2 linked regions of the Homo sapiens genome follow. The protein of the gene in region 2 interacts with the protein of the main gene of each other region in a pairwise test. Each region holds a gene or a part of one and is shown on either strand. Other genes may lie near its edges.

Region 1 (3,917 bases), on a different chromosome or scaffold from region 2:
CAGCCAACATGTCGGTGCTGGATGTATTTTCCCAATGTTGCATAAGAGGAATACCTTCGAGAGTTTGGCCTAGGAATGTGGCCTGGGACTCCGCCAAGCATCTCTCTCCAGCAAAATGACTGCAAATTTCTCGACCTTCAGATTCTACATGATGTAAAAGAAGTTTGTCTGTGTTTAAAAACACATTCAAGAAATAAGTGAACATGTGAAAAGACAGAAAAACTTGTTTTAATTTGGGCATAGTTTCAGTTTTCAAAGGCACATGAAGGCAGAAAGAAAGAATCACAAAATGGAACTACTGATGATAGCAACTCCAAAACCAAGACTGATTAGACTAAATCCCATGTGGCAAAAATTTTATTTAGTAAGTTTCCTTCTCCCTCTCTCCCTTTAGATATATGTGCATACACACACACGCACCTTTATTTTAGTAATTTTTTTTTTCTGAAAAAGAAAGTTTTCTGCACCTGATTGCTTCCATGAATAACACAAAGCACAAACAATATGACTTTCTTTGGTTATCATGCAATTTTTTCTCTGCTTACCAGAAATTGGCACAAATTTAAGATATACTATATTCTACTCCCTGAAGCACAGTCGCTGGCATCTCCACTGGCATTTAAAAATTTGAAGACATTTAAAAGAAAATCCACAAGCTTATAGTTGCTGTCTAAATCAACTTTAACATTTCATATATTCACAATTTCATAAGTGAATCAAATTACACATAAGAAATTATAGAACTAAGCCAACTAAATGACTTTTATAATAGGTACTGGGGAAAAATATTATTAAACCTTTTCCTCCAATTTCTGCCTTTCTTCCAGCAAGACAAACCATTTTCATGAAGTTTCTGTCTACATCACTAGTGATAATCTGAAGCAGCCATTAATCAATCTATTAGTGCATTCAGCAACATTTATCAAAGTGCCTCCCCAGAACTGTTTTGGATGCTGTTGTGGGCGCATGCAAAAATGAACTAAATATAGATTTTTGTCATCCAAGAATTTTAAGTCAATTTGTAATTATTGGTTCCTGGTTCCATAACTTTTTTTTTTTTTTTTTTTGGTGCTGGCTCAGATGTATACCTTCATCTATTCTAAGGTTAAGGCAATCCTTATAATTTTCTTCCTTTTTCTTGTTTGTTTGTTTTTTGTGTGTGTGTTTAAAATCTTGCTTATATTTGACTTTATTTTATTCTCACATCTTCTGAGTACATTAAAGTTAAAGGTAGATCATAAATCGAAAACATTCTTAAAGGTCTCTCTACTCAAATTATTTGGTGTTATTGTATCTCAGAAAGTATAATGAATTGCCTGTAGCAAATAAATAAAATCAGAACCTTTATACTCAATGGTTCGGTTTGGTACATATCCATGAAAATAATAAATGTTAAAAAGGATGCTAGCCGTTGATTCCTGGCATGCTATTCTACATTTGGCTACATTACAACGTTAAAAGGATTTAGTGCATATATCAAATTGTGGATCTGCTTGTTTTAAAATTTCATCTGTAATTCCACATGCAACCCCCACCCCCATACACACTCACAAGATCTGAATATGGTAACAAGGAAATCCTAGTAACTGTAGCGTTGGAAAAATGGTTCATATGGAAATAAGCCATTTGGCTAGTAAAGCTGGTGATTTTGTTCTCTAGGTGGCACTATTACTTCAATTTTTGGTGAGTTGCTTAAATTACTTGGAACTGCCCGTTTATTTTCTTTGAATTCCCATTTTATAAATTTTAATTTTATACAAGCTAGTTGTAATTAAACGACAGGTTGCCTTCTAGGTTTTATTTCAGTAAGTCAATTTGAAGTTCAGTGATTTTTTATCATATAATTTTATGTTTCCTTACTATACTGTCTTAGTTTTAAGAAATCCTCCCTTGCCTGACCTCCTCTCTCCAAAAATGCAGAGGCATGTCAAAAACACAGAGGGTCGTCATAAAGTTTCCGTCAGACCAAAGGAACCAAGATGAAAGCATGTTTAAGAGCTACTAGGTTCTGGGAGATTTCAAAATCAGGACATTACTACCATGACAACCAATGAAAAGTTCTTTCAAGTGAACCTTTGGGGAAAACTATATAACGTTCCTTACTCTCTAGGCTCTCTGGAAATAAACTTTTACTTTATTATGGCTGTCACTAAAGCTTGTAAATTTACTTTGCTTCCTTCCAATCGTTCTCCTGTCCCACACTCAGCCCCCTAACTCACTTAATGCAACCCATCCTCAAACATCAATCTATAAATGAGACATCAGGGCAATGAGCCACTTCTTAGCATCTAGTATATTTGATAAGATTTGTCTCATCAAGAGGATAAGTGCCCTAGAGCTTCTACTTGAACTTAAATACTTAATTTAAATGAAAGCTTCCACACTTATCTGACCAGATACTCAAATTTTTCTACAGAAAAGAGAATACCTTCCTGTTCCACTTAAAGAACACACACATTTACCACTCCCCCTCCTCTCCCCTGCAAAAGGTTTTCAATGTCAGTACATTAGTGAGCTCCATTTTGCATCTGCCATCAATAATGATTCCATATAGTCAATAATTGGGTTCATGACCTTTCTAAATCTTTACAGTGTAAATATTCTGGAAATCCAGTGAGGCACTTAAGTATAAAATTATTTAGGATTAAATAATTCTATGCCTTAAGTAGAAGTTTAAGAGGACGTTTAGGACACACATGACTAAGCCTACAAATACCAAAGCCACTCTATGTTTCCTAGGTTTAAATACCACATGCAAATAACATACGGATTTCATTTGCCAGCATCATTTATTGCCTAACATTACTCCATACTAAACAGAGTAAATGGATGCAGAGTGTAACCAGTAAGTTTGCTCATTCACTTTTGAAGCTCATCTGTGCATGTTATTCATCCTAATAAAGAAAATTTATCACAACACAACTTGATGCGATTCTTGTTCAAATGATTTCCTCTTCCATTGAACAACAGCCAGCACTTAAAACCTAGAATTCCACAGAATTCTCTCCTCGATTCCTCTTTAAAATGCAATTCACAGTTTGAGATCACAGAGCCTGCCAGTGGCTGAATGGCTGCACTAGATGGCTGAGAGTCCTTCAATTAAGCAACAATTTTGCAATTAGTGGAAACTGAGTGCTCTATAACAATTGTTTGAAAACAAGTTGAGACAAGTTAGCAATTACCCTATAAAAGGGACATATTCACTTTTGTTGGATAGGCGAGACCCCTCACACAAATTGAACTCTTCCACACAGGGAGATGCAAGTTGAAAATTAATGTTTTAATCACTAAAATCAAATCCATATTATGGGCACCTGAAATGGGAGTGCCTTTCTTCTCAAAAGATATTCAGAGTTTAGCTATCATCCACTCTCTATGCTGTCTGTTTTTATTCAGGAAGTCTGAAATTGTTCTTCTGTACTCCGGGATTAATTTCCTACATCTCAAAATGTTAATAAACTACTTGAACATGACCTTTCCATTCTGTAAATTTCCTTAAGAGTAAGTCTACGATTGAGACCCAAAGCTGCTGGCTGTGTTATATTTCACAGTTCACAGTTCTCTCTCTCTCTCTCTCCCCCTCTACACACACGCGCACGTGCACGCACACACACACACACACACACAGAGAGAGAGAGAGAGAGAGAGAGAGAGAGAGCACCCCAGGTTTTAGAAGATGAATGTAAAAAGAATGTAAACAAGTTCTCTGCTATACTATCAGGTGGGCGTGCCCAGCTCACTGTGCGTGCTGAACTACAAACCAGTGCTATTCATATAAGAAATGATATCAATCATCTACATTTTGACTATTGAAAAGCTGGGACTCTTAAAGATTCCAGGAAAAAGGGAATAGCTTACATTTTCATGGCGCCCCTTTTAAACAGGAAACCCACGGACTTTGAGCCAGGATTTTAGAA
Region 2 (3,917 bases):
GCTTTCTTCAAGGTGGTCAAAGTATGGGAAAGTTATTTTGCTGTGTAAAATGCTGTTTAATGTAAGTGGCTAGGATTTGGGGCCTGAATTCTCCACAGAGACCCAGGCTGAGGGGATTGTGGAGCCTAACAGACTGAAAGCTTTCTGGACGTTGGAATGTTTTTGGGAGGAGCCTCAATGCCACACTGCCTGCACCCCCCGCCCCCACCACCGCCAGCCTTGATGAGCATCTCTTCACGGACGTGGTTGTAGCTCCCAGAGGCACCCTGTCCAGAAGCAGAAGACTTGACCATTGGATCTTGGCTTAAAGCCAGGTATGGGGCCAAGACTGCAGCCACCACAGGATACCGAACTCGCATCTCTGGAATAGTTCAGGCAGATGGGGTTTTGCCTTTTCCTAAAATTTTGCCAAGGGGGAAGTTCCTCCTGTCCACCAATCTGAGTCCTTTCTGCTACTGTTTTCATCCCATGCCTTGTGGGGGGACGGGTGGCAGCACAGAGTGAGGTGGATCCCTCTTCTCCCACTCCTTTCTGCACTGGCTTCTCCAGGAAGCCCTGATCATGGTCTTCTGGCTTTTGCCTACCATAGGCTTGTCCGGTTTCTCCTCTGGGTCCTCTGCCCTGGTTGGGCCTTCTTCCTAGTGAACTCTTCTAGGGGTGGGGTCTTCAACCCCATCCTCCACCCCTGCCCCCGCCACGGCCAAGCCAGATTTGCAGGGGTGGGGAGGGTGAGGTGCCTTTTCTCCAGCTAGGGTCTCCCTAGAGGACACACTGAGCACTCCCAAAGCCCCAGCCAGTGGCTCCTGCCCCACCCCAGCCCCAGCATCCGTGTGCCCTTCAAGGCGCGTCTGCGGCCCCGAGCCTGAGGCCCGGCCTCCCTGCACCCTTCTTCAGCCTGCTGCCCTGACACTGCGTTCTTGCGAGACGAGGTGTCTGCGCCCTCCGGGAGCGCTGGCTGCTGTCCGGCCAAATATAGACACCACGTCCTCCCCGCCCGAAACCGAATTTGGCGGCGCGGGGGGAGGAGGCGCAGACCTCTGCCCCTCAGGGACCCCGCCCGCTCCGCTGGCTGCGGTGACGGCCGGGTGTGGGGGGCTGGGTACCTGGTCCTGAGCGGGCTGCGGGGCGCTCACGCTGCGAATCCTCTGCGGAAGGGGCCCGAGTGCGTAGGGGGCCGAGGAAGGCTTCAGGGCGAAGGAGCCACCTCTCCGGGTGTCTGTAGTATCTGGGACCCGGGTGTCCAGCTCCGCACTCTGGCCGATCCTGCGGCTCTCTAGAGCCCGGCGCCGCTGCAGCCCCAGCTGCCGCTGCCATCAACCTAAGAGGGCGGGGCTAGCATAGGGGCGGGGCCAGAGCCCAAGTTGCCCCGCCCCCTCCAGCGGCGGGAAAGTCGAGCGACCCCGACTCCCCTCCCAGCTTCCGCCGGCCTCGGAGAACCATCGAAAATAAATGTGCAGCTGTGTGCTAGGTGCGCACGCTGCTTCCCTCCCTCCATGACTCCCGGGTAGGCTGGGGAGGCTCGGGTTCGCAGACCTAGAGCAGGACGCTTGGAGAGGGAACGGGCGAGGGGGCGTGCGCCCCTAGAGCGGGCAGCCGAGGGAGACCAGGTGCCTCCACCCGCATTCCAGCCTCAATCGCGCTCCCAATTTAGCTGTCCCGATCGGCCGGGACTGCGGGACTGCACTTCCAGGCCTCCCTGGGGGAAAGAGGCCCTAGAGAATGAGGACCCAGGCTGATCCTGATGTAGGGCAAGTGAGAGGGCACCCGACACAGGGTTGTGAATGTTAGTTATTGTTATGAATGGCAATAGCGATCATTTGAGAAACCTAAAATGCTGGCTGTGTGCTAGGCATTTCACCCCATTAGATGAGATTCCATGGAGCAGGGCAGGAAGCAGCTGAAAGAACAAGGGGAGGACCGAGTGTAAAGTGAACCCACCTTGACACTCCCTCCCCTCCCAGATGCAGGGGGAAGAGGCTAGCACCGGTCTCTAGTCACATTTTAGGGGTCAGAGAAGCCAACTCAGAGGCCAGACTCCTAATGTTTTCTGGGCCTTGTTTGAATTGGCGCCCGACTGTGTTCCAGGTAAGCTTCCCCCGTCTCCCCCAATATTCACAGAACTGAATGTTGACCGAGGTCAAGGAGATTAAAGATAACCTGATCAAAATACAGCCAGTGAAGACCAGCCAGTCCCGTAGCTCCAGTCTACCCAGTGTCTGCACATTGCCTGGATTTCTTCCCTTGGATCATAAGGGCATCTGGGGCCAGTTATTACTTCCCACCCTCCAGGGCACACCTGGGAGTGAGTGAATGGAACACAGCCTTCTGAAGGGCAGGAACCAGCACTGGGGAGGAAAGGGAGGGAAGGTGGTAGAAACCATGAAGGGCCCACGAGGCTCCTTTGTTTCTCAGGAAGAGTCCAGGTGGCTTGTAGGGACAGAATCAAATCAAGAGTCAGTGGCTTGTAGGGGAACAGAATAAAAAACTGTTACGAGTGCTCCAGAAATAACTCCTGGCGTAGGGGTGCTGGGGCAGGGTATGAGGGTATGTGAGTCATCTCTCTTTTACCTAAAGATTCCAGGCACATGATTAGGAGGAAAATACCTGAGTGACTCAGTTGCTCCTTTACAACAATAACCCATGCTTATGTGCTAGGCACTGGCACTAAGGGCTTTATACGTATTAATTTCATACTCTTAACAATCCTCTAGGCTGGTCGCGGGTGGCTAACGCCTGTAATCCCAGCACTTTGGGAGGCTGAGGCAGGTGGATCACCTGAGGTCAGGAGTTCGAGACCAGCCTGGCCAACATGGCAAAACCCCATCTCTACTAAAAATACAAAAATTTGCCAGGTGTGGTGATGCACACCTGTAATCCCAGCTACTCAGGAGGCTGAGACACGAGAATTGCTTGAACCTAGGAGGCAGAGGTTGCAGTGAGCTGAGATCATGCCACTGCCCTCCAGCCTGGGTGACAGAATGAGACTCTGTCTCAAATAAAACACACGCACAAAAAACCAAAAAACAATCCTCTAAGGTGGGTACTGTTGTTATCCCTATTTAACAGTTGAGGAAATGGAGCCACAAAGAGGTTAGGTGGCTTACCCATCACAACCTCAACTGGTAGTTGATGTAGCTATGATTCTTACCCACGTGGTCTGGCATCTGGTTCTTGCTTTTCAGCAGCATGCATTTCTGTCTCTCCCTGAAGGACAGTGCCACTTTATCTCACAAGTGCTGAGCTAAAACGTAACTGAGAGTTTATACTGTGTGGCACAGAGGAAAGGATGCCTGGAATGAATTAAAAAACTGGTTCCAGTCCTGGCTCAATCGCCATATTTTTACAGCTCTCTGAACAGGATTGGGTCAGATTCTTTCCAACTCTGCACCACTCCTTAGCAGAGTAGGGATTTTATGTGCTGCCTCCTCTGAAGTGGCATCTCCCCTACCCCCACCCTCCTTCTCTTTAAAGAGAACAGGAGACTCCCTTCTAGAGGGAAGCGCTTGGGACTAGGAAGCAGGAATCCTTCAATGCGTGCTCCCTTCAGTTCCATCATCTAGGAAGAGCAGTGCTTTCTGGGTACAGGGATTCAGATATTTGCTTGGGCCTGGCGTAGCTCAGCCCTGCCCTCTAGCCTTCTTCTGGCTGCCAAGGCCTGACAGAGCTGTGAGTGGGCAGAGTTAAGGCAGGAAGAACCAATCAGGGAGAGAAGCTACTTGGGCTTCGTGCCTCCCTTTTGAACTGTTAGCTCTGAACGGCAATCCATAGAAGACAGCCATGGATTTCATCTTTTAGGAAGCCATTTTCTGGATGAGGTAGCTCGCAACTTAGCCATGATTTGGTCCATCTGCTTTGGCTAGAAAACCAAGACTGAACTTATCTAGATTGGTCAGGGATCCCAGGGATCCTTAGAATAT

The links.
Region 1: the proteins of CORO6 (region 2) and BDNF interact in binary tests that used the Homo sapiens proteins (3 or more experiments, as listed by UniProt).

Annotation. Positions count from the first base shown.
Region 1 is NC_000011.10:27,693,539-27,697,455, forward strand, and holds part of BDNF (neurotrophic factor BDNF precursor form isoform a preproprotein), read right to left. Parts: intron 1-3,917. UniProt on the Homo sapiens protein: Important signaling molecule that activates signaling cascades downstream of NTRK2. During development, promotes the survival and differentiation of selected neuronal populations of the peripheral and central nervous systems.
Region 2 is NC_000017.11:29,621,585-29,625,501, forward strand, and holds the start of CORO6 (coronin-6), read right to left. Parts: upstream 1,329-3,917; 5' UTR 1,315-1,328; coding exon of another isoform or gene 1,104-1,314; intron 1-1,103.